Regions from separate parts of the Homo sapiens genome. Here all the other regions are reported to be linked to region 1. The links are microRNA targets in miRTarBase. Many come from high-throughput screens and were not tested one by one. Region 1 holds a microRNA gene; each other region holds the end of a gene's coding sequence.

Region 1 (11,042 bases):
AAAAGAACATTTGGATAAAGGTAACTGAGGAAAATCTGACAAGCCTGGGAGGTAAATCTTAAGTATGGTGACCCTTGAATTTACTGGAGCCAGGGATAGAATATGAAACCTAAACTGTGCCCATCAGTATTGGCGTTAAGAGATAGAGTGTTCCCAGGCGTATATCCACTAAGGCGGAAACAATTATGTGCCATGGACCACACAATGCATCAGCAACGGGGCTTTATGAAAGAGGGAGGCAGAAAACAACCCATCTTATTTTATTGCAGGTTAAGACCCTATAATACACTTCTCTGCTAAATGAATTTTATGTGTAATGAGCCCTCTGAAAATCCCTTATTTCTTGATTTTTCTCTTACTTTATCAACAACTATGCAGTTAAAACGTATAAGCAACTTACTCTTACTGATGTTGAAATGGAAATCACATCAAAAACCATTGAAAAAAACAAAAATCCATTATGAGGCAGAAATGTGGCAGAGTCCTACTGAATAGTGTTTAGCCAAGGGTATGGCTTGGTTCTCAGTTTTACACATTTCTACAAACTGAACTGAAGCACCATACTATAAAATGGTGTACCTTATATCTTCACTGTATAACATATGGTACAGGGCGGATAAACCTATTTTGATGAGTTATGAAACAACTACTGGAAGTTTTTTCAAAAGTATAATTCTTACTTCTATTTAAATGATCCTGTAATAATCTCCTGTCTGAACTCAAGGAATTTTTAGCTGTCACTTCCAAAGGGGCAGGTTACAGATGAGGAAACTGACAGATAGGTTAAGTAACTTGTCTGAGGTCACAGAAGCCACAGTACTGAGTGTCTGGGATTTGACCTCAGATCCATTTGGCTACAAGTTCATGCTCGTTCATAATGGTATTCATTCAGTAGGGCATTCATTATAAAAGATATGCCTTCTAATTTGTGCTACACAACCTACAGTGAGATATCCAGATGCCGAATCCCTTTGGAGTCTTTTCATATTTTGTTTTAGCAGAAGTTTGACTAGATTTAACATTTAATCTAATCTGCTTCACAAGGATGTGAAGCTTAATGTTATAATTTGATTCAAAAACATTTGACACTGTAACTCTGTATTTGTTTAATCATAAAACGTCAGCAAATACTTGCACTTCCAGATTAAGAACATGTGGCCTTTGCAGGACTTATTTTTAAAAGGTAAGTATGACTGATTTGTTCATTAAATTCTGCCTTTGCAATTGTGCTGAAAGTGTAGTGAGATTTTAACACGAAGAAGCATGTTCTTCTCTACGCTATTTCAGTCAGTTTCCTATATTATTTATTTGTGTGAGTATACAAAGTGCTAATGAATAAATCTGGAAAAGCCTTTTGTTGTTGTCACTGCTGTTATTCTTTGCAGGATATTATTTAATGTCTTTTTTTTTTTTTTTTGGCAGCTTAATAAACTCTGTACTCTCCAGCTCCCACCAGTCTGTTCAATTGGGATACCAGAAAATAAAGAGCAGGAGTTCTAAGGAGCATTCCAGCGTAACAGTGTTCCTTCCAGCATTCATCACATTCCCAGGCATTCCTTGGTAGCTTGAGGTTTCCTCTTCCTTATCGTTTTATACCTCGCAGACTCTGAGCTCCTTGAGGTGGGCTCCTTACCTTTGAGGTTAATGTCTTGCACAAATATCCCAAAACTGAATACTACTACTGTCGTTATCAATAGGTGGCTTTCCCCACCCAACTTTTGTCTTAGAACCATCTTTTTTGGATCTTTCAATCTGCTAATCATTACATAAAGTATAAACTTCCTGCATTCCCACTTCAGTTCTACTGTTGCCCAACTTTGTAATATCTGTGAACAAACTCAATCTTGCTGTGCTTTAGTTTTCTCACCAGTGAAATAGAGATAATAGTACAGACTCTCCTAGACAGGTAACTGCTAGGGTCAGATAGATCAATAAATGTGAAAGTGCTCTTAAATCTGTGATGAATTATTGAGATGCTTGTGATAGTAAGGATTTAGAGCTCAGTCGATAAAAAAATCAGCCTTTATTCCAGATGTGATAAATCTGGAGCATGATAGAATTTTAATATAGAACACAGTGAAACATTTTAGAAGGACAATTAATGATAATTTTTTTTGCATTTTTTTCTATACTTGATAAAGCTTATGTTTTATACAAGAATTGAAAATTTTTACCTTTACAATTTTAAACAACAGGGCCATATTCCAATAGGTATCCTTTTTTTCTTTTTCTTTGAGACAGAGTCTTTCTCTGTCCCCTAGGCTGGAGAGCAGTGGCGCGATCTCGGCTCACTGCAACCTCCACCACCCAAGTTCAAGGGATTCTTGTGCCTCAGTTTCCCAAGTAGCTGGGATTACAGGTGTGAGACACCACACCTGGCTCTTTTTTGTATTTTAGTAGAGATGGGGTTTCACCATGTTGGCTGGTCTCATCTCAAACTCCTGACCTCAAGTGATCTGCCCGCCTCGGCCTCGCAAAGTGCTGGGATTGCAGGCGTGAGCCACTGAGCACGGGCTCCAAAAGGTATCTTATTTGAAAGCAAGTGCATAGAAGATAAATATCCCTCTATGTCTCATGCCAACTCTTGACATCACAACTTTTCATCCACAAGAAATCACAAATTCTAACGTACATACCTAATAAAATGCATAAGATAATGTAGGTGTAACAGAATAGGTAGTAATGGGGACTGTGGCTAAATGAAGAGCCTGTGCTAGAGAAAACAGGGCAACTTGACTCCTGCTCTGGTTACTATGTAGAAAAACAGACTAAGGATCATCAGATCATTTGCTTTCTCTAGAGAGGTTAGAAATTCTTAGTTCATGTCACATTTTTTTCAATTTCAAACAATGGTAGCTAATAAACTACTATTAAATACCATAGGGACTAAATAGAACTTTATCTAAATACATCTGTAATTTTAGATGCAATAGACCAATTCCTAGAAAGACACAAATGATTCGAGCTGACTCCAAAACGGAAAATCTGGAAAAATGTAATGTTGAAATTCCAATTAAAAATGGACATTTTTATGTGTATTAAATACATAAAAATTTAATTTTAAAATTTCCCATTTGCAAATTCCAGTTATGAAGCCAGTTACCAAGCCTGCATAATCAGGTACTTAAACCTAGCAAGCATATTACAAGAAAGGAAAATAACAGGCCAATCACTTTCATGGACGTAAAGGAAAAACTATGAATCAAAGAAAATCTAGCAATACACAAAAAAGATTATACGTCTTATCCAGGTTTAGTTTATTACAGGAAGAAAGGCTTTTTTAGCATTAGAAAACTAAGTCATGTGATTTGACATATAGCAGAATAAAGAAGAAAAATACGACCATCTCAAATGATTCTGGAAAAATATATGATAAAATTTGGCATCCGGTAGTGATAAAACCTCTTAGAATATTAAGAACAGAAGGTATCTACAACAAACCTACAGGAAAGATCATACTTAATGATTATTTATTAAAGTTCTTCCCTCTGAGACTTAAAATGAGAAATAAATATCCACAATACTCCCATTGTACTAGAGTATTTATACAGTACAATATGTCAGGGAAAATTAATGACATGAAAAATAATTGGAAAGGGAGAAAGAAAACTGTCATTACTCAAAAACAACCTATATATGTACATCTGAATAATACTACAGATAATGTATTCAAATTATTAAGTAAATGTAGCATGGTACCTGGATACAAGACCAAGAAAAAAAATCAACTGTATTTCTTTATATCAGCACAAATAGAAAATGAAATTTCAAAAATATATTCATAACAGCAAAAATATAAAAACCCAAGAAATAAATCTCAGAGAAAGTTTAAGAGCCTTTACTTTAAAAACTATAAAACATTATTGAGAGAAAATAAAGACCTAACTAAATGAAAGGATTGAAAGACTTTACATAATAAAAATGTTGATTCTGTACAAGTTGATCCAGAGAATAGATGAAATCCAATTAAAACCACAGCAGATTCTTTTTGGGGGCAGGGTTCACAAGCTGTTCTTAAAATTCATATGGAGATCGAAATGGCCAAAAGCAGTCAAGATAATCTTTAAAAAGGAAGAAAATAAAATGGCTTTTACTGACCAACTGACCAAAACAAACTTAATGTGACTAAACTCTAGACAGGCTTTTATTTGACTATAGGCTCCTGACCTCTCTTTTCTTAGAGCGCTTACTTTAGGGAAACTTGCAACCAAAAACATATTCTCTGCCTCTTTGAGATGTAAATCTTCTACAATCCGGGAATATCTTTCTCAAGGACCTAGGAGCCATCTCTTTGAAATGTAATTGTTAATGATAGCACGCCTATCTCCCAGTCTCTGTGGGACAGTAGGAGCCTAACTTCATTAAGTGCCAATTAACAATCACAGATTGCCTAATCACCATCCTAACCCCCTAATATCTTCCAGTATTTTTCTACTAGCTCTCCTCAGTGCTTAAATTCTCTCCTGTCTTTCTTTCAGTAGAAATGATTTCCATCTCTCTCTCCTATGGCAATAGTCTTGATCCATAATTCAGTAGTCTTGAATAAAGTCTTTCTTGCCTGTTTGTCTGGTGCATTTTTTCTTTTACAATATTACCAGATACAGGCTGGGCCTGGTAGCTCACGCCTGCAATCCCAACACTTCGGCAGGCCGAGGCTGGCAGATCACCTGAGGTCAGGAGTTCAAGACCAACCTGACCAACATGGTGAAACCCTGTCTCTACTCAAAATACAAAAAAAATTAGCCAGGCATGATGGTGGGCACCTGCAAACCCAGCTATTCAGGAGGTTGAGGCAGGAGAATTGCTTGAACCAGGGAGGCGGATGTTGCATTGAGCTGAGATCTTGCCACTGCACTCCAGCCTGGGTAGAAACAGCGAAACTCCATCTCAAAAAAATATTACCATATATTAAAACTTGTCATAATGCTATAGTAATTAAAACAATGTGGAATTAGCATGAGGACAGGCAAGTAGAGAAATAAAACTGATTAGAGTCCATAAACTGATCCATGCACGTATAGGCATTTTATTTCTAATATTTTCGTCAAAGATGACACCACAGAATATTGAGGAAAGGATGGTCTTATTGAAAATCTTTGCAATAAGACCATCTTTTCCTCAATATTCTACAGTGCCAACTTGTTGTTTCAGTTGGATCTATATGGGAAAAAATGGACATTCATCCCTTCCTCATACCTGTAATAATAGGTGGATTGTAATACGAAAGGTAAAACAAACAGTTCCTATATAGCAACCCAGGACCATAGCTTCAGAATTTTAAAGTAGAGAGTTTTATTTTTAAACTGAGGACAAAAGTACACTAAACATAACAGAAAATATTGAAGTGAACTATGTTAAATTTAAACTTCTGTTTATGAAGAGATATATCATTACGGAGTGAAAAGGCAAGGTACCCATTCAAAAAGAAAAATGTAATATAAACAGCAAAGAATACCCAGAATATATATATTTTAAACTAAAATAAATCAGTAAGAGAAATATAGAAAATCCAGTAGAAAAACAGGCATTTCAGAGAAGAGTTCATTTAAATGGCCAATAACAACTGAAATAGTATTCCGCCTCACTGGTCATCAGTATATACAAATGAAAAATGAGAGATGACATTATAAAGTCACCAGAAAGGCTCAAATTAAAAAGTTTAACAAACAAGTATTCAAGAAGATATGAAGCAGTTTGTACTTTCATTTACTACTGGTGAGAATATGAATTTATACAACTTTGGAAAACCCTTTGTTAATATCTTGAAAGCTAAATATGCATATACCCAATGATTAAGAAATGCTATTCTTAGGTAAATACCTAATACAAAAGTTTACATATATACACAAAAATATACGTACAATTTATGTTGATAGATGAATTATTTGTAATGCTTCCGAACTGGAAACAACCCCAATTTTCTGAACAGAATATGTAAAATGTGGTATATTCATACAAAGTAATTCTATCCAGCGATGAAAATTAATAAAGTAATGCTATATGCAACATAGTGAATCTCACAAATATAGTATCCAGTGAAAAAAGCCAGTTAAAAAACTGCATATATAAAAGTTTCATTTACATCAAGTTAAAAATATAGCAAGACTAACCTGCAGCATTATAACTCAAGATACATGTTACCTTTGAGGAGATGGGAAGAGTTTATGATACCATAGGGCTTGATGGAGGTTTCCTGGTTGCTGGTAACATACTATCTTTTTCTGGATGTGGAATCATAGTATGTTACTTCTGTAATAAGTCTTTAAGCTATAATTATAACTTATGTCCTTTGCTTGATACTTCAATTTAAAAAGTACCATAAAGTTTGCATTTTTTTTTCAGAACCATCAACAGATAAACAGATAACAGGTTATATATACATAATGCAATGTTATTTGGCCATAAAAAGGAATGAAATATAGCTATTTGCAACAACATAAATGGAACTGGAGGTCATTATGTTAAATAAGCAGGCACAGAAAGACAAATACCACATGTTCTCATTCACATGTGGGAGCTAAAAAATTGGATCTCATAGAGCTAGAGATTAGAATGATAGATACTGGAGACTGGGAAGAGTGTGTGGATGGAATGAAGAGAGGTTGTTTAATGGGTACATACGCTTAGATAGAAGGAATAAGTTCTAATGTTCGATAGCAGAGTAGGAAGACTATATAATTATATACAACAGTGTAACAAAATATCACATGTACTCTATAAGTATGTACAAATATTATGTATCAATAAACTTAAAAATTTTTTGTAAATGTATTAACACTTGCATTCATAAAGAATATTATTGGCCGGGTGGCCGGGCGTGGTGGCTCACGCCTGTAATCCCAGCACTTTGGGAGGCCGAGGCTGGCGGATCACGAGGTCAGGAGATCAAGACCAACCTGGCTAACACAGTGAAACCCATCTCTACAGAAAATACAAAAAATTAGCCAGGCGTGGTGGCAGGCGCCTGCAGTCCCAGCTACTCGGGAGTCTGAGGTAGGAGAATGGCATGAACCCGGGAGGCAGAGCTTACAGTGAGCCGAGATCGCGCCACTGCACTCCAGCCTGGGTGACAGAGCAGGACTCCGTCTCAAAAAAAAAAAAAAAAAAAAAAAAAAAAAAAGAATATTATTGTTCCAGCATACTTGCTTATATTTCCCCTGTAATTTTGTATGGTGGGTATTATGATCACTGTTATCTTTGAGTTTCATTTGATAATTTTTATCATGAGAGAATTTATTGTTCAACTCATAAATTATAAAGTCAGAATAGAAAACAGATTGAGTAATCCAGACATTGTGTTCTTTCAAATCTACCTAACACCCTATTGGCCAAATGTATTACAACAGACCGTGTATTAACATAAATTGAAATCTAGCGTTAACTGTATACTTACAGCACATTGGCTTTGGATGTTCAAATTTCATTAGAATATTCAACATTTATTTATACTTGATACAATGTGCAGTTGAAAAAACAATGCACATATCAAAGCTGATCAAAACATACTCAAAAGTTTTCTAATAACTGAATCATGTGCCATTTTATATTTAAGTAAATAAAATAAAAAATCCAGTTCCTCAAGCATACCAGTCACAATTCAAGTGCTCAAAATAGCCAAAGGTGTATAGCAACTTCCTTACTGAACAGTGTCGTTCTAGAAAAGAAAAAAATTTTATATACTAATGCAATCGAGTGTGACAGGTGTTAATATATATATACTGCTTATATAAACTATATACATATATAAACCATTCTCTTCTAGAACAGTGTTGTTCTAGAAGAGAAAAATATTTATGTACTAATGCAATTGAGTGGGACAGGTGCTAAAATAAATAAATATATATGTTTATATTATATATATTTGTACTTGTAAATTTAACTCATTCATGCAAATGCTATATCTATTCATATATATATGAATAGATATTGCATTTTATACAGATAGATAGTATTTGCATGAATGAGTTAAATTTACAGGTACGAATACATTACTGTGTTACATAGGTTTCTGTATTCCCCCGTTGCTGATTAGTAAACCAAAACTGAAAAAAATCACATAATTTTCACAAGGCCACATAGCAAATTTCTACTATGAATTTGAGAGATTGGGAGAAATCTCAGGTTGAGTTGTCACACATCTGAATACCAGTGTCAGCCTTGCCACCTGCAAGCTATATGAACTTGGATTTAACTTCATTATGCATTGGCTTTCTCATTTGTGATATAGGGTTGGCATTACATACAAAGCATGTAAAACTCCTGAAAAATAATAATCTAATAATTATAATTATTGCTTCTTGGGCAACAAATGTTGATGCTTAGCTTTGTGGATTATTTCCATCACATTTAAAGTTTTTTTTAAATGCATTTAATTCACCAAATATAAAATTAGGAACTAGAGCGAAACATCAAAATGTTTCAACCATATTCCTCTTCATAAATAACTTCTATTTCTTAATTTGATAGGGTCTAACATTCTATAAAATTTTCTTTCTCATACTATCCCGAAGATATGTACTATAAAAATTTCAGTTACCTAACTGACATTTAGGTGATGAGAGAAAAATCTGACTTTATCGTCTTTCTGAACAACTACCTTTCACAGTATAGCATTTTCTTTCCAAGTGGCTTTGTTATTTTAACATTCTCTTTGTAACTGAGATATAGCACATTCCCTTTGTAACCTGTGTGATACTCATGTTACACAAGTTAAAACTATTAACGACACTAACAGCAATGTCCAAAGAGATGTTACCATTAAATGTCTGTCATTCTTATTGTCTACTTATCCAGATTTGTCACCTTTAAAAATTATCACTGTTGGTCAAAATAATTGGCAGAATGTAGTATTTGACTTCTTTATATTTTGCCATTATATTCAGATTGTTTTTTCTTATGAAAGTAATTTTGAGAATCATGCTTTTTAAAGCTGAAGTTCTCTACAGAATGAGGGAGAATTATGCTTCTACTAGATAAGATTGGGCAGTATTTCCTTTTATTTTCTTGCACTCCACCTGTATTGGAAGGGACATTGGAGGCTATCAAGTCTAACTTCCCACTCAGTATGTCACCTCTTTTAAAACATACTTGAACATGAGATTCCAGTTTGTGTTAAATATTATTAATGAAGAACAGCTCACCACTTTCCACAGCTCTTATCGCATTGTAAGAATGCTCTGGGCTGATGATGATAATAATAGTAACTAATATTATTATTGCTTACTATATTTCAGTGATTTTTAAATGCTTTAGCTTCTCAACTACCCTTTTACCCTTTACAGATATCTGATAATGTAGGTTCTAATACAATCTTCATATTAAAGATGGGGAAACTAAAGCCAAGGATGGTTAAGTGACTTGCCCAAAGGTATACTGTAGATAAGGAACAGAGCAGGAAGGGTCTATTTCTAGAGTTTCTCCTCTTAATTACCTTACAACAAAAAGCTCTCCCTTTTAAGTCAAAAAAATCTTTCTTGGAATTATATCCAACCGTCTGTTCATAGGTTCATTCAGTTATCTTACAAGAATTACTGATTACTTGTATCTGACAATGCAGGCAAGAATGTGTAAGACACATCTCATGTAATTTAGATTCTAATAAAAGAGTAAAGCACATTAATATTAACTGCAAAAGTATATGATCGGTGCCCAAACAGACACAATTAGGGTACAGACATGGCACAAAGAGGGAGTAGTCATCACTAGGTAGAGTGGCCAATTTCATGGAGGAAAACTTGAAATGAGTTTTCTATACATAGATGAAATTATCAAAGCAGATCTTATGAAGCAGAGTCGTCTGTTTAAACCCGGTGGTATGTGCAAAGAGGTCGTAACATACAGGGTATCAGAAACAGCTTGTATGAATCAAATGCAGGTTGAGGGACATAAAGCAGATAACATGAGACAAGTCTATAGAGACTGGTAGGAGTCAGGTAATCAAATACCTTGTAGGCCAAAGTATCAGAATCTGGAAAGTGACTCAGGATTTTAAGCAAAGGAGAACGATTAAACAGGCTCTTGGGAACCCACACTGACTTCAATGTGGAGATTGGATGGAAGAGCGGTAAGACTGAAGGCAAGGACTTTGGGGGCTTATGATATGGCCTATACCTTGAGAAATGTTGACAAGAACAAAGATGAAATAATAAATACAAGATAAGGTTGAGAAATATTTTGACATTGCATGCAAAGGGCTCATAAGGGAAAGGACAGGGATGAATTTGGGGATGACTCTAGGTTTCTGGTACAGGTGTCATGATAAGTGCCAGTGCAATGACAAAAATAAGAAATTCAGTAAGGAAAGCAGGTTTAAAGGAAGGCAATGTACAGTGAGGTAAGTTTCATCTTGTTGAGTTTGAAGTGTTGTTTGGACTTCAAGGATGTGTTCAGAAGATAATTAGAAGAAAATGGACTCAGGAAAGATCTGGGCAGAAGACATCCAGAGTTACCAACTTCTGTCTGCTTCTGATATTATGACATTTTGAAAAACCATAGAGAAAGTGCCTTCCTTTTTCACCATCACAATAGTGTTCATGTGCCATTTCCCTATGATTAGTTATTTTTTAATTAAATAATCGCCCACTCTACAAATATTCTTCACAGGATGCTGCCATCTGAGAAAATCCTGCTAAGATAGAGTACCAATCGTGGGCGTAAAATACAGTGTATTCAAATCAGCATAGAGTATAATTATTAGTTCATGTAATCTAGACACTATATCACAGTCTGTGATTGCATTAACTAAGAATCTGTATCATCCTTAATATCAAGCTTGTTTCAAAGTAAGCATGTGCACTCTATCTCATATGTGCTTATGTTTATGTATATGTATGTATATACATATATATACATATGCACAAAGATGTACGTATGTATATATATAGAAACATAAAGAGATGTATATAAATTTAACTATATACACATTTATACATATATTTTTATATAGACAAAATTACATGTATTTTTACACACTTACATTTATATATATTTACATTTATATCTATAGATGGGAAGTCAGACCCTTTGTATCTCAAACTAATTCA
Region 2 (7,000 bases), not on the chromosome of region 1:
GCAGAAGTACGTGGCTGGGGGCTGGGCGGGCTGGGCCCAGGGAGCATTGAGAGGCTTTTGGGGACAGTCCCTCCCCATCCCTCCAGCTGAGTAGGGAGGCACAGAAGTTGGAGGGCCCCATGGTGGGGACACCCGGTCCGGAATGACCAGGCATCAGAGCCAGCACAGAGCCAGACCCCCAGAGGCTTTGGGAAAACCTGGGGCCTCCTGACCTGAGAACAGGGAAGGACAGAGTTGCCCAGGTAAAGCTGAGGACCTGGGTCACCCTGGATGAAAGCCAGACCACACACCCTTACCTGCCATCTGTCCCTTGCCTGTGCCCAGGGAGATCGAGTTCCTGAAAAAGGAGACTGCACAGCGTCGGGTTCTGGAGGAGTCGGAGCTGGCCAGAAAGGAGGAGATGGACAAGCTCCTGGACAAGGTGGGCCTGGGGCGCCCTGTGGGCAGGGCCCAGTGGAGGGAGCAGCATTGAAGCCCCTACCCTGTGGGTCCTGGAGGGAGGGGATGCCATGTCCTCACCGGGGGGCGGAAGGGGCTGGGATCATGCCTGGTGTCCAGACCTGACCCCCTACCCTCCTTTGTTTTCCAGATCTCAGAACTGGAAGGAAACTTGCAAACACTGAGGAATTCCAATTCTACTTAACAGGAATCATTCCATGACTGGACAATAATTAACCCCCCTCCCATTGTCCTCCCTCCCCTGTCCTCAACACCCCACCCCTCCCCCTTCCAGCCTGGGGACAGGTGCCCCGACTCCCCCCACCCCTCCACCCCACCTCCCCCAGCTTCAGGGACCAGAGGGCTCATATCACAGGCCCCCTTAAGATGGCCTGGGCAGACAGAGGTGGCTAGAAGGGCAGCCTCTTTCTTGCCCCATGGGGCTGAGGCACAGAGGCCGAGGGCTGCCGAGGGCTGGCCTGGTGGTCGACGGACACAAGCACCTGCAGATCAAACTGCCAGACTTTACACACTCCAGCTTTTGTCTCTGGACTGGAACGGGGCTGGGGCTCTCCCAGCATCTGCCAACTGGGGGCTGCTCCCTGCCCATGGGGCACCTGGGTGGCCCCTGGGCCTCTTGACTTGAGATTCTACCTTCTCGGCCCTTCCCTCTCCCCCCATCATTGTGCCGTCTCTGTTGCATTCTGACCCTCCCGCCTGGGGGGTGGGGGCGTTGCCTCAACACCTCCCCCATCCCTGTTCCCTGTCCTGGGAGGGATAGAGTCCACCCCAGAGCCCGGAGGCTGGGCCTGGCCCTGGCCCTGCACTGATTTCTCATGTGTCCTTCGGGAAAAGGGGGAGTGAGAGTGGGAAAAAGGGAGAGTTCAGGACACCTGGTCCCCAGCTCCCCATTGCCTGGGGCAGCAGCCCTCAATTTCTCCTTGTGCCTCCCCTCTTCCAGGTGCCAAATAGCCATAACCTCGTCTTGGAACTGTTATGTGGCCTCTCTGGGGTCCAGGTTTCCTGGTCAAGCCTGGGAATGCCAGGGAGGAAAGGGGGTCTGGCTACAGCGACCCTGGTCTTAGGCAAGGGGAACATTTCTCCCTGGAGAGTCAGGTCCTATCCTGTGCTGCCCTGTCTGCCCAGCCCAGGGCGATGCCTGGAAGCCTACTGACATTGCAGGGAGTCAGCCTCGCCCCCACCCCCTACTGGTTTTCCAATGTTTTGACTGGAGGGCAAAATTTTACTACTACTCATCTTTTTGGAGACCAGGGCTGCCCTGCTGGCAGCCTGCCTTCTAAGTGAAATCGACTCTGTTTCCCCACTTTAACCCCAAATTGGGGCTTGGACCAAGGGAGGTGAGACCACCTCCCCCAGGTCCCCTCCCCTTTCAAAATCCATCTCATTTTGCCACTTCATGCCCCTGCCCTAACTGGGTTTTTGTTCATTTTTTAAAAACAGACCACCCATCCCATCCGTTTTGGCTTCTTGTCCCCTGTAAATAGACCATGACTTCGATCAGTATTTCTTGTCCCCACCCCTTCCTATCCCCAGATGTGCCCCCATCCCCTGAAGGAGCTGGCTGTCTCAGTCCTGGGCTCGCGCACTTCACCCCGGCAGATGGAGGGGGCGGAACCGGGTGGGCGGGGCCGCTTCGGGCTGCTTGGGCCAGCGGCCACCCCTGCCCAGCCGTCGGGAGGGCCGCATCTCTGTATATAATATATATATGTATGTATTGTTCCCGGTTTTGTACGGACCATGCCCTCTGTCAGGTCGTCCCCATAAAAGCAGCCCCCAGAGCCTTGCTGCCTGGTTTCTTGATTCACTGAGGTGGGGAGTGGGCAGGGATCAAGGATGCCAGGCTGCCCCAGTGGTCCCCTCCCACCAGTGCTGCCTCTAACCCTGAGGAACTTCCTACAGTGTCCCCCCGTTTCCGGTTCCAGCAAACTGCTTTTCTGCCCCCATTCCAGCCATCAGCACCCATGCTTTTTGTCCAGTCCTCCTGGGCAGGGCTGAGGGTTTCTAGAGAGTTTGTTTAGTCTGCATTCGTTTTTCAGGGCCTCTAAGAAGTTCAAAGGATGGGCTAAATACAGCAAGGTGAACCCCAAGTCCCTCCCCCAGAAGGCCTTTAAACTGTGGGGACACTCTCAAGAGGCACCCGGTGTGAGGCAGGTAAAGGATCAAAGGATTGCTGGGGGTGGGAGGTGACTGCCTGGCAGTTTAGTACCCAGGGTCCTAGAGGATCTGTTTGCCCTTTGGGGCGGGCCAAGTGGCCTGAAATAGCCCCAGCCCCTGTGCTGGGCCAGCAGGCCTGTGTGCTGACTCACCAGCTCAAATGCTAATGGGTCTGGGAGTCTAGGTGCCAGAGTTCCAGGGACAAGCTTTGGTGAAGTCCCAGAGGGGTGAGAGCCAGCAGGGAATGGGGCAGGAGCTTATGGCAGGCCCCAGGGCCAGCCTTTCCTTGCCGGGGTGCTGGTGTGCAGATGTCAGAGACCTGAAGCATGGAGGCACTTGCACTCAGTGGTGTGGCACTAGGGAATTCTCACCTTTGCCATAAGGAATGAAGTCCCAACTTCAGAGCCCTTCAAGGTCACCTTGGTGGGTCCTTAACAACATCCAGATGAGTGGCAGCACCCCCAGGGACAGTCTGCTCCAGAAGCTTCCCTTGTAGATGGCTGTGTCACACAGGTCACATTCATGCTAAGCCAAATTCTGGCTTCCCATAGCTATCCCTCAAAAACCCTAGGTCTACACCTCAGGCCAGTCCAATCCTGCCTCCCACCTGAGGGTTGCCTGGAAACCTGGGGATAGTGAATACTCTTCCCAAGGCATCTTTGCTATGTGGACGATTGTTGGAACACTCTGGGAGCCCTAAGGATGCTGAAGACGGATCAAGGTGTCTGATCCCCAAGATCAGAGACCACCAAACCACAGGGTCAGAGGTCATGGCTCCAGAGTTAGAAGTCACTGAACCCCAGGGCCACCAAGGCCCTGCTCAGGAAACCTAGCCAAGAAGTGAAGTGGCATGACCTTCCTGTAATCTGTAGTCTTAATCTGGGTGGGGAGGCAGGCATGAAGGTTTCGAGGGTTTCTGCTGGGCCGATGGGGGCTAAGCATCCAGGGCGGGGTCCCTCTGTCCCTCCCCCACTCCCCGTCTGTCCTGTGTGTTAGGTGAGGGGCCTATACATAGTATGTTTCAAACAGTGGGCCAAGTAACCCCTCACATTTAAGCCCAAGTGTGTTGTGTGCCTGGAGGTGTGTGTGGCTTTGCTGTGAGTTTCTCAAGCCTGAGCTGTGACTTGCCCATGATACACAGTATGTCCATGTTTGGGACTTTGTCAAGTAGCTGTAAGTGGGCCTGTCACCTTAAACCCTCCTTATCCCCCCACTCACTTGCCCAATTTTGGAAGCTTGAGTAGGTTTGCCAACACTTGCCAATAAGGCAACTTATTGCCAACCCTCAGAAGCTTAGGCCTCACTAGGAATAGGGGAACAGGGGCTCCTCCTGGGTCCTATGGCCTGGCAAACATACCCATCATCTCCCCACCCCCTTGGGATGTACAGGGTCTATATAATCAAGCCCCCCACTACAGCCCACCACTCAGATCTCACCAGATGCCTACAAAGCACAACCCCTTTAAGACAGCCAGATGCAGCCCCCACAGCTGTCAACAGAAACCCCACCCCTTCCCCAGATTTCCACAATCTAGCCTCATGGCTGCCAGAAGATTCTGAAGACACCCAGAGACCCCCAAACTCCTATAAATCCCCTAGGATACCCTCAGACCCTAAAGGCTGTTAATTCTGTCCTCACTCATAGTCACAAGATTGTCCTGGTTCAACAGGCCACTTCCCGGAGGCCTCGGACTGCAGAGTCCTGTGGGCCATCAGGGAACTCTGTCCTATAGACTCCACACCTCTCCTCTGACTCTAGACCCCTGATCCAGCTTCACCACTTGCCTTTTTTTTTTTTTTTTTTTTTTTTTTTTTTTTTTTTTTTTGAGATTTGAGTTTCACTCTGTTGGCCAGGCTGAAAGGCAGTGGCACAATCTCAGCTCACTCCAACCTCCACCTCCCAGGTTCAAGCAATTCTCATGCCTCAGCCTCCAGAGTAGCGCCACCATGCCTGACTAATTTTTGTATTTTTAGTAGAGACAAGGGTTTCACCATGTTGGCCAGGCTGGTCTCGAACTCCTGACCTCATGTAATCCACCCACCTTGGCCTCCCAAAGTGCTGGGATTACAGTCGTGAGCCACTGCGCCTGGCCTTTCACCACTTGCTCTTGAGCAAAGCACTTTCCTTCTTCTAAGTCTCTGTTTTCTCTGAGGCAGTGGGTAATGGAAACACCCACCTTGTGGGTTTATTGTGAGGGTGACAATAGATGATCTGAGAGCGCCTGGCACCTGCCAAGCTGTGACGTGCGGTAGCTGGTTGTGGATCCCTACATTGCCTCCCTGGCTGGCCTGCCACTACCATCAGCGCACTGGGTCCAAGTCTGATCTCATCCGTCCCCACCCCCACCTGCTCCAGGGCTTCCTGCCTCAAGCCAAGGTCCACAGCCATCCTAGACCCCTCCTCCCTCACCTCCTAGTCCAGCAGGTCCCCAAATCCTGTCAGCTTCTTCGGTGTCAGCTTCTTCAGGCCTGCATCCTGAAGGGCTCTCAGCTTAATCTGTAATCTTTATGCCCACTGCCACCGGCCCTCAATAGCCTCCAGCGGGTCTCCCTGCCTTCAGAGTGCCCTCTGTAACCCTGTCTCCAGGGGAGCCAAGGGTGCTTCCTAAATGCACACCTGAGCCCCTCCCTCCTCTTAATTTTGTGTGTGTGCGCGCGCGCGCGTGTGTGTGTGTGTGTGTGTGTGTGTGTGGGCGGCGGGGTGGGCGGCTGGTAGAATAAAGTGCAAGCCCCCTGCACCTCCCCAGCTTCAATTTATCTTCCCCTCTTGCCCTCCCACCCCCAACACCCCCTGGCACTTCCCTACCCTGGCCCGCAGTTGTAGCCAACACATCACATCCTCTGGGAATCCCCCAGCCCAGCTCCCGCCGCGGCCGCCTGGACCCAGGCCGGGCCAGGGGTGCGCTCTCCCTTCCGGCAAGAAGTGCCCTCTGTTAGCTGGGCCCATGGCGCCCAGGCTCGTGAGGGCCTCCCCACTCGTCTGAGCCCCCGACTGGCCCACTGGCCTTGAGCGCAGTTAGGGGGCGGGGGTTCTGTTCACCGCTGTCCCCTCCAGCCTCGGCGCCCCGGCTGCTCGGCGGACGTTTGTTGAATGAATGAACTAATCGGGAGCCCTGATGGACCCGGCAGAGGAGGCGGAAGCCCCGTGGGTCCCGTGGCGGGACCGCCCCGGAGCCGCTCCCACCCGCGCAGACTCCGGTGCGCCGCGTCTCCCGCGGGCAGAGAAGTAGCTGCAACTCCGCTCCCCGGCCCCAGCCGCCTCCTCCCCGCCGCCCTCCCCCGCCCCCGCCCCCTCGCTCCCTCCCGCTCTTTGTCTCCTGGGCGCCCGGCTTCTCCGCCACGCGCCCCCCACCCCGACGCCCCTTCCCCGGAGACCCCCGCGGACCCCTGCCGACGCGACGCCGCGCGAATCGGCCCTGCCAGGCGGGGGCCCCGCGTCCGGCCAGGCCTGGCGGGCGGCAGGGGCGGGGAGGGAGGTGGCGCTCGCTCTTCGCTCTTCTCTCTCTCTCTCTCTCTGTCACACACACACACACGCACACGCACACGCACACACACACGGAGCATCCTCCCGTCAGGTCTCCTGGTCCAGCCCCGCCCGCGCCTCCTGCTTCCAGCGAACCTGTTCCCTCTCCCCACATCCCCCGCCCTCCATCTCCCCCGGCTCTGGGACCCTTCCCGCCGACCTCACCCCCACCCCCGGGATGGAGCGGCTCGAGCCCGCCCGGAGCCCCCCGCGGCCGGGGTGACGGTCCCCCCACCCCTCTCCTGCCCGGCCCCCGCCTCGAGCACCATGGGCCTGAGGGGTTCCCGGGGCGCCAGACGCTGAAGATGACCGATGCCGGAGGTGAGGGGCCGGGCGCCCTGGGGTGGACCGGGAACTGGGGCTAGGGCCACTCGGGCCCGCGGTGGGACCCTGAGTGGGGTTGGGCAGGGCTAAGCGACAAGGGCCTTTCTTCCCCTATCCCTAGGGGGACCGCACGGGGCTGGGGTGCCGGGCTGTCAGGGGAGGGGGCGGAGATAGGATTTATGGCCCTAATCCCCTCCCTCCCGCCCGACGCCCGGAGAAATTAATAAAAAGCTGGTGTGGGGGGAGGGGGAGAGGGCTTAACTCTTTCTTGCCCGGCGGGGAGTTGTGCTGATGGTTTGGAGAGAAACTAGCCACCGGGCTCTGACTGGGGAGAAGGGCTCTGAGAGTGGAGTAGGTGCCCTGTCCCCAACCTCACCCCATCTCCAACAGTGCTTTGAGGGGGTGCCCGACTCCTGAGGACTACCCCAAGCCTGGGGCCAGTGGACGGCCGGCGATATGGGAAGGGGGGACCACCTCTCTGGCTCCACAACTGCCTCCCCGACCGCTAGTCTCCTTTCCCATCCACCTCTTCCCGGCCTC
Region 3 (8,092 bases), not on the chromosome of region 1:
GGGGGGCGGGGCTGGCAGAGGAAATGTAGTGGGAGACAAGACGGAGGTGAGCTGCAGAAGCCCAGCCGAAGATTAGGGATGTCTTAACTAAACCCTATTCTATTTATCAGGGGCCTAAGCAGATGCTAACAAACCCTGTCAGCATGGGAGGGGGACAAGGTGCAGGTAGGGGCGCCTGGGAAAGCCCCAGCGTGTGGGTAATTGTAGGAGAAGCCGCAGCATACAGGGCAGGGTTCATTGTGGGTTTCCCCCACATAGACACCGGCATCCCTCCACTTCCACCCACCCCCAACCGAAAATATTAGGGACTCCCTATAGGTCCCGCGGGTGTGCTTTCAGCTGCTTCATTTTTCCCAGTCGGAAAGTCCCTGCTGGGCTTCAGCTGCAGCCAGGGTGGACTGGGTGGTTGGCCGCTGGCTGCCTGGGCCTCCGACAAAGGCTGCGCCTGTGGCTGGGCTGCTCCGAGGTCCCCGGTCCAGCAGCGCCCCCCAAGCCTCCGGTCGGCTGGGGTTCCCTCCTCTGGGGGTCTCATTCCAGGCTGCTGCTACCGAGCCTAACTTCGAATTCTGGGACTGGGGGGGTTGGGGGGGTGGGTGGCGCTTAAGCATTTACACTGACACATAGCTGGCTGCCACTGACGGGGTCTGCGGGTGTGGGGAGGGGAGATAGGAGCGCATCCTCTGCCTCTCCGTGCAGCAGCTTGACCCAATTAGGGACCTGATAGAAGAACTGGAGCCGGAGCCTGTGCTCCCCAGGAGCGGCTGGGGCGACCGGGGATCTATTTCCCAAGCCCGGGCTCCAAAGCCATGTGCCAAACTCATCGCTCAGCTCCGCAGCCGCGCTCGAAGACAGAGCGTCAGACCCGCGTCATTCCGCCCCCGCCCTCACTCCCTCAGGGGGCTACTGACCTGGAGGTTTGGGGTCTCGAGTGATGCTTCGGTGCAAGTTCCCTCCGCCCTCCGCCCTCTCCTCCCGGGAACACCACCGGGTGAAAGCTAAGCTGGAGGGAGTTCATTTGCATTTAAAGAGAAAGTGACCTTCTCCTTAGCGCGGTGGGGTGAGATGGGAGGAGCATCCCCGCGTATGCTAAGCAGTTCCTCTCACTCGACCTCACCTCCCCGCCTGAACCTAGGGGACCCTGTTGGTTGTGTGATGTCTATTTTAAAAAGATTTTCCCTTTCCCGGCAGTTTCAGAGAGAAGCTACAGTTCCTTACAAAATGGTGGTGGCTTTGTCAGAAAGGGGGTGGGGCGGGGGAGAGGAGAGACAGAGTGAGTGAGTGAGAGAGAGAGAATGTAAGCACAGAAGAAGCACAAGCAGCAACAGCAGCAGCATCAGGAAGACACTTCGAGCAAAGACAGCCATCAATGGAGTGAGTCCAGTGCCCTATTGAGCACTTTACATACATTTCATCCCCATAACAACCCTTAAGGAAGATACCAGTGTCATTCCCCATTCTACTGAAAGTAAGCAACAGTCTTTTGAGGGCAAAACCCCTCTCTCTACAATGCCAGACAGTTTTCTCTGGTAAGTGGTGGGGGCTGTATTTTGCCGCAGATGAAGTGACAGGAGTCCTCCCCACCCCCCAGGCCTAGGAGACAGGTGTGGGGAGCACCAGGTCATAAGGTAGACCACGCGATTCCCTGGCACCTGACTCCAGTCCTCAGGGAAACCTGAGCACCTGATGGAGGCTGACCCAGTGTGACTGCTGCTGCCTGCAGCCAGATCAATGGGGGCAGCTATTTAAAGCCCTGGCAGAGGCTCCTGGCGCAGGTCCCCAGAACAGCATCTGATACAACAGGAGAGAGGCTCATGTTTGGCCAGGCGGCTCAGCAGGCTCAAGTGAGCTGGCCCAGGGCAGTGCACACAGCCACCCAGCCCACCTTCCCCATCCCCGGGCAGGAGTGGCTTCCTGGGGTTGGGCCTCTTGGCTGATGTGGGGAGCCATGGGCACTGCTCCTGAGGGCACCTGCTCAGGGCTTCTTCCTGGGTACTTCCAACACTCAGAACACTCCACAAGGGTAAAGAGTAATTCCGAACTTTTTCAATAACCAGGGGCCCAGACTGGGGACAACAGAAATCCCTCTCCTTCCCCACCGGAGCTGCTAGAGTAGACAGTGGTAATGCTGCTGACAGAGGGAGCACCCCTGTGGTTCCCATCCTCAGCTGCTTCACTGGGGGGTCAGAAACCTCATTATTCTCAGAGCTGCTTTGCTTGGAATCTCCAAGAGTTGGGGCGGCACCCCCCCCACACCCTCCAGAGGATCTGCGACTAGAAATAACATGGCCAGCATGGAAAACATGTATCAGGACCCAGCTAGAAGGGTCAGAGGCTCTGCTGGGACTGTCACAGTCATTGTGGGCACATCTATTTGTGGAGGCCTGGAGGGAAGGGCAGGTGGGTTGTCTCTGCCATTTCCTGGGCATTCAGCACATATCATCCTTTGTGCCTGACCAACCCAGGACCCAGAGAGAACAGGGTGCTGGGTGAGGCCACCAGCAGCATGTCTCCCATATAGGAGTCCCATGCTTGAGGTGGGTAAATGGGGGGTGTAAAAACTGAACAGAGAATGTGCTCTCCTTAAGGAATGCATACAATTAGAGGCCCCTGTGAATTCCCTTGGGCAGGCCAGGGCTATAGGAGCCTACCCACAGCTCAGACCCAAATAGCAGTGATGAGTGTCCACCCCTCTTAACCTGGGCCTCAAATGGCCTATGCCTGGCTCCATGCCTTTTGCCTTACTGCTGGAGCCTATCAATTTCCTATTGAAACACCTTCAGTTGCCCCCCCTGCCCTCTGGATCTAGCCCACATTCCTTAACCTGGTACCCAGACTCTGGGCCCAGCCTCACCCCCTCTCCCAGTCCCATGGACCTGCTTCCCAGCTGTACCATTTAATCACTAAATGACGTTCATCTTCTACCTGCCCTGTGGTTCAGAAGGCCATTCCAGGTATCACCCCCTCACCTTGCTGAAGGGGGCAGGGGCCTCCTCTCTGCTCTCAGCACCATTGACCTGTCTATAGCTAAAAGTACCTTTTCCCTTCACTAGCCTGTGAGCCCCCAGGTCAGGGAAAACTTTTTTGTGTGTGTGTGATCCTCTCTGAGGCAAGGGTCTTGCCAACTTTGCCAAGGGCTCCACTCAGGCAGCTCAAGTGAATATGCCAGCATCCTGAGGCTGTGGCGACTGCTCAAAGACACTGTGGAATATGTAAGATACCAGGGAACCACCATGGGCGCTCTGCAGCAGACCTGAACAAGTCAGTGATGATGGAAGGGGCTGAATGGATCAGATCCAGAAACAAAGGAATACACAGGTCAGGAGAGAAACAAGTAAGGCAACAGACTCTTTATTTAATGTGGTTTAAAATACATCAAAATCAAGTCCCTGGCTGTTGTGAATACCCAAAGGAGACAAAAAAGCTGCCAGTGCAGCTTCAAACAAGTCTGAGTGGCCGGGCTGGGCCATAAGGAAAGCAGTTACAGGGACAGAAGGCAGCTCCCTTCCCCCAGGAAGGGCAAGAGGAGCAGGTGCCTGGCTGTCCCTGGGGTGACCACCTCTGTGCTGTGCAAGGCGGAAAGGCTGGGGCAGCAGCTGGAGAATCAGCTCAGCAGGCCTTGGCCCTCCCCCGTGGACACCAGGCAGCTCCACTGGCCTCCGGGTCAGCCCTCAGGGCCACCGTGATGGGGTGGAGGAGGGTTAAATAACCATCTTTACAGAAATAACAGTCTCCTACAGAAAGTGCCTGAGCTCAGCCCATGGTCCGATAACCTCATGGAAAACAAACAACAAATAAAAAAAAAAAGTGCTGCTGACACCTCTCAGAATCTGGTGGACATGAAGCTCTCAGCTGGACAAGGCCCTGAAAACAATTTACTATTAGCAGAGCCATGCGCTCTTGAGCTTCACCTGCTGTGGTCCCCTGGAGGAAAAGCTAGCAATCTAAGAAACCAACACAGATCTTGGTCCTAAAACTGAGGTCACAAGTGTGGGACCCACCCAGGTGAGGAAGACACTGGCCTTCACTCATGGATAGGCACCTCCCCTGCATCTGGCCCAGGACCTGGGCTACTTTGGAAAGCAGAAGCAGAGCAGCTGTAGTGATTGGTTGATTTGGTCAATGAAGAGAAGAAAAAGGTAGGGAACCTCATCTGCAGACTGGCCTGAAGGTCTAGACATGGATGGAGCTGTGAGCAAAGGCTGCACCTTGCCTGGGGCCCACATTCCTGACCTGGGAAACCCAGCTGGGGCCACCTGCTCACTGTGGCCTCCTACACCACCACACTGGGATCCAGCAGCTCCAGTCCCTCCACAGGCATTAAGAGGTAGCTGAAGTGTGAGTCAGGCAATTATGTGGGCCACTGTAGGCCTTTCCCCTCTCTTCAAGGGGGAAGGTGCATACCTCTGCCTCTTCCCTGCACCTCTCTCGCCTAGCAAACACTCTGTGAGGTTGGCAGCTCTTGTACCAGCTTAGCCTGGCACAGGGGCTGGGGTAGGGAAAAGGCCCTACTGGAGCAGGAAGAGGCAAGGACTACTCCAGACAGAGGGATTCAAAGGGGAAGAAAAAGGTCATGGGAAACACTTCACAGGACAGCAGTATCTCAGCCAGAGATGGCAGAGATCTCAACACTCACACAGCTGCTTGAGGGCACCTAGATGTGAAGGATACACCAGAGAATAGCAGGCAACTCTGATGCAGATCAGTGGTACCTGCCCTGGGGCAGGAGAAGGAGAAATGGTGTGCCATTCATTTGCCATCTCTGGTCTCAGTCACACATGATTCAGTACTTAACATTCTTTGTGAACCAACTTATCTGAGAGATTTAAGGTAAGGGCTAAAAGAGTGGGCTAGGTATGGAAGATGAAGGGACCTGCAGGACAATGAACTAGCTTCAAAGAAAAACAGCAAGAAGCAAAGCCCTAACCATCCTATCCATCTTGGTCTGAGTCATTCTGTTGTCCCAGAAAACTGCTTGGCACAAACACTGGCTAATACCCTGGCAAGTTTGCAACAGCAGAACATTCAGCATATAGAATGGCTCTACACAGTACATAGTAGTTATGTACTGGAGTGGGGGTAGAACAGGACACAGAAACAACTGTCTGCAGCCATTTTATGGATTTCTGGGGCCCAGTCAATAGTTCAATTTCATTTCTTACCTGTTAGACAACAGCTATGGGCTCCCACACAGGAAGAAGTAGAATCCCCAAGGACAGGCAGGGAGGTGCCAGGAAATAGAATCAGGACAAATCTTGAGGATTGCACATGTGGGGGTGGGGGCAGGAAGCAGAAAAACCCATGAAGCCAAAGAGGCAGCTGGACATGGGACCCAGCAACTGCTGCATGGAGACAGTGCTGATGGGAACTGGTGGTGGCCTCTCAGGACTGAAACCCACAGGTAAGCTTGTGGCAAAGCCATCAGAAGCCCTTTCCTTTCTTTTACCACAAACAACCTGATCTCACCAAACAGGAAACCTCAGCATCAAGATGGCAAAGGAGCCAAGTGGGGTGGTGAAGGAGGTGGGACACTGGAGGCCAGGCACCCAGGCACCACTGCTACAGCATCCCTCTTCCTTGGAAGGTCCTCAATACAAACACTGTCATGTGCAAAAAAAAAAGAAAAAGAAAAAAAAAAAAAAAGAAAAAGAAATAAAGAAAAAAACACCTTCAGAAATAATCCTTTGGGTGATCTCTTGTCAATCATTTGTGCAGGCTAGAGAGGCACCTGTGAATGATAAGGCTACTGAGAAGCATCATTGGCCTGGTCCTGGCACTACCAAAGGGCAGGGGAAGCGATGCCCAAGGGGCTCCTGACCAGCACATCATCCCACGCAAAAACATTCTCCAGGTCCCTTGTTCCAGGCAGGAAATCCCCAGCTCTGAGCGCCCTGCCAGGGCTCTGCCTAGGGACACCTTTTCCAGGTCTAGAGAATCAAAGGAGCCTCCAGAGCAGCTAGGAGGGCCTGAGCTGACCAAGCAAGCCCTGCTCACAAGACAAATGCAGTCAAGACCTGGGTGTATTACTTGTCTTGAGCTCTGAAGGGCAGGGAGGGGTCTGAGCCTCAAATCAGACAGAGAAATGCTCAAGTCACTTCTGCCAACTCACTGTGATGGCAGCTACAGATGACAGCCCCTCTCAAGACTCTTCAGCTCACAGACAAGCCACTGACTTCATCTGTACACACCCCCATCCCCAATGCAAGCCCACTGTACACTTACAGGTATAAATGCATTTGCAAGGCCTTGCAAAATGCCCTATGTACGTAAAACTGACCCACAAAATCCAAAATTGCAAGTGCCAGATGCCAGCCAGGTCAGAACATCCTGGCTTCAGCAATGGGCTGCTCAGCATGGGAGCCTTTTATGGGCCAGGCCTGGCTGGGCTGCCGCTCCCTTCCCAGCATGACCCAACACCAGGCTCTCTAGGCCCTGGCGGAGGTGGGCTCTTGAGGCCCAGTCTGGCCTGATGCTTCTGTGCTCGGTGCTCCTGGGTAGCAAGGCGCTTCTGTGACCCTGGGGGAGCTGGGTGCTTGAGCCCCAGGCCCCTCTGGCCTCCTCTCAGGGCCACTGTCAGTGAGGGAGCCCTGGCCACCAGCACTCAGGTCCTGTACCCTCTTGTTCAGGTCATTGCGCTCTGTCTGCAGTGCCCGGCACAGCTTCTCCAGCCGTTGGATTTTTACCTGCAGGCCCTCCAGTTCTTTATCCCGGACTGTTTTCTAGGGAAAGAAATGAGACCTTCAGTGCCGTGCCCCATCAACCTCCCACTTACCATCACCACTTGGCGGCAAACACTTTAACAAGGCTGAGAGCAGACCGAGTCCAAAGCTGGCCCCCTCTAGGAAACAGTCCTAGTTGAAGCCATGACTAGGCTGTCAGGTGGGGCAGCATGGTGCAGAAAAGGGGCACGGCTTGGAGATAACGTATTCCTCCATTTATCTACCACGTGACCTTGGCAAAGGACTTGACTTTTGAGCCTGTCTCATCTATAAAACAGGACTACTAATACCATCCTCAGAGCTCAAGAGAAGGTTCAATGAACAACGTACCTAAAAACATTCAGCAGCAAAAAAGACAAAAAAAACCCAAAAACTTTCAGCAAGGTCTGGCTTGCAGTTGCTGCTCCATCGTTAGTTCCTTTCTTCTACATTACAAGCTGTGAAATCACAAACTACCTGGGCTGCTTTACATGTAAACCAGGCACATCACTGGCACCCGTTTTTTTCTGCTCTTTTATTCCTTTCTTCCATTTGCTCCCTTCACTCCCACTGGAGACCTACCACTGGGCTCACCACCTCCCATGGGGAGAGAACAGCATTAACTTTGGACTTGGACATTGTGTGCAAATCTCACCTCTACCTCATGCTAGCTGTGTCACTGATGGGTAGAACATACAGGAAAGGGCCTGATATGCGCTAAGTGCACACCCCCACCCTGGCTGCAGATCACAGACAGCCCACCTCCTCAGCCATCTCAAGCAGGGCCTTGTTGCTGCTCTCCCACCGGGACCGGTACATGGTGGTTTCTTTCTCCAGCTTCTTGATCTTCTTAGTCATCTAGGTTATGTGACAGACAGAAGGAAATGGTCAGAGCTGGCCTCTCCAAGGTCTGTGTCTCCAAGGTGGGGACTGCACCTGTGTCTCCAAGGTGGGGAATGATTGATCCCAAGGCGCAAGGCATTACAGGATGCAGTCAATGCCCTCTGTGCCACCTCACCACCAGGAAGTCAGAGGTGTCCACCACCAATAACAAGGAATGGTAAGGGGCCAGGCATGGTGGCTCACGCCTATAATCCCAGCACTTTGGGAGGCCAAGGCGGGCAGATCACTTGAGGCCAAGAGTTCGAGACCAGCCTGGCCAACATGGTGAAACCCCGTCTCTACTAAAAATACAAAAAAAAAAGAAAGAAAAAATTAGCCAGGCATGGTGGCACGCGCCTGTAATTCCAGCTAGTCAGGAGGCTGAGGCAGGAGAATCACTTGAACCCGGGGGGCAAAGGCTGCAATGAGCTGAGATCATGCCACTGCACTCCAGCCTGGGCAATAGGTGAGTCTCCATCTCAAACAACAACAACAACAACAACAACAACAACAAA

The links. The annotated mature microRNA hsa-miR-3915 reads UUGAGGAAAAGAUGGUCUUAUU and lies in region 1 at 5,101-5,122, opposite strand. An mRNA with a match to its seed (bases 2 to 7 or 8) in the 3' UTR can be bound and repressed. Matches are read on the target gene's strand: a 7mer-m8 pairs with bases 2 to 8, a 7mer-A1 pairs with bases 2 to 7 and ends in A, and an 8mer does both.
Region 2: miRTarBase lists PPP1R9B as a target of hsa-miR-3915. Seed matches in the 3' UTR shown: 7mer-A1 at 704-710.
Region 3: miRTarBase lists TXLNA as a target of hsa-miR-3915. Seed matches in the 3' UTR shown: 7mer-A1 at 5,253-5,259 and 7mer-m8 at 4,004-4,010.

The regions. Positions count from the first base shown.
Region 1 is chrX:32,578,611-32,589,652 of GRCh38, forward strand. It overlaps MIR3915 (microRNA 3915), which reads right to left and starts at 5,142; the gene lies at 5,046-5,142. All of the region lies in intron 13 of DMD (dystrophin), which reads right to left. RefSeq lists an enhancer at 3,971-4,598.
Region 2 is chr17:50,128,974-50,135,973 of GRCh38, reverse strand. PPP1R9B (protein phosphatase 1 regulatory subunit 9B) reads left to right here. Exons shown (of 10, transcript NM_032595.5): 8 at 1-6; 9 at 325-421; 10 at 590-2,237. The coding sequence ends at 643. It overlaps SAMD14 (sterile alpha motif domain containing 14), which reads left to right and starts at 5,814. Exons shown (of 10, transcript NM_001257359.2): 1 at 5,814-6,457. RefSeq lists enhancers at 2,080-2,821, 2,872-2,941, 2,822-3,564 and silencers at 5,719-5,798, 6,039-6,098.
Region 3 is chr1:32,193,526-32,201,617 of GRCh38, reverse strand. It overlaps TXLNA (taxilin alpha), which reads right to left. Exons shown (of 11, transcript NM_175852.4): 10 at 7,458-7,553; 11 at 3,333-6,716. The coding sequence ends at 6,423. CCDC28B (coiled-coil domain containing 28B) reads right to left here and starts at 1,023. Exons shown (of 6, transcript NM_024296.5): 1 at 909-1,023. RefSeq lists enhancers at 1-177, 178-697, 956-1,035, 1,248-1,805, 1,806-2,364 and 1 more.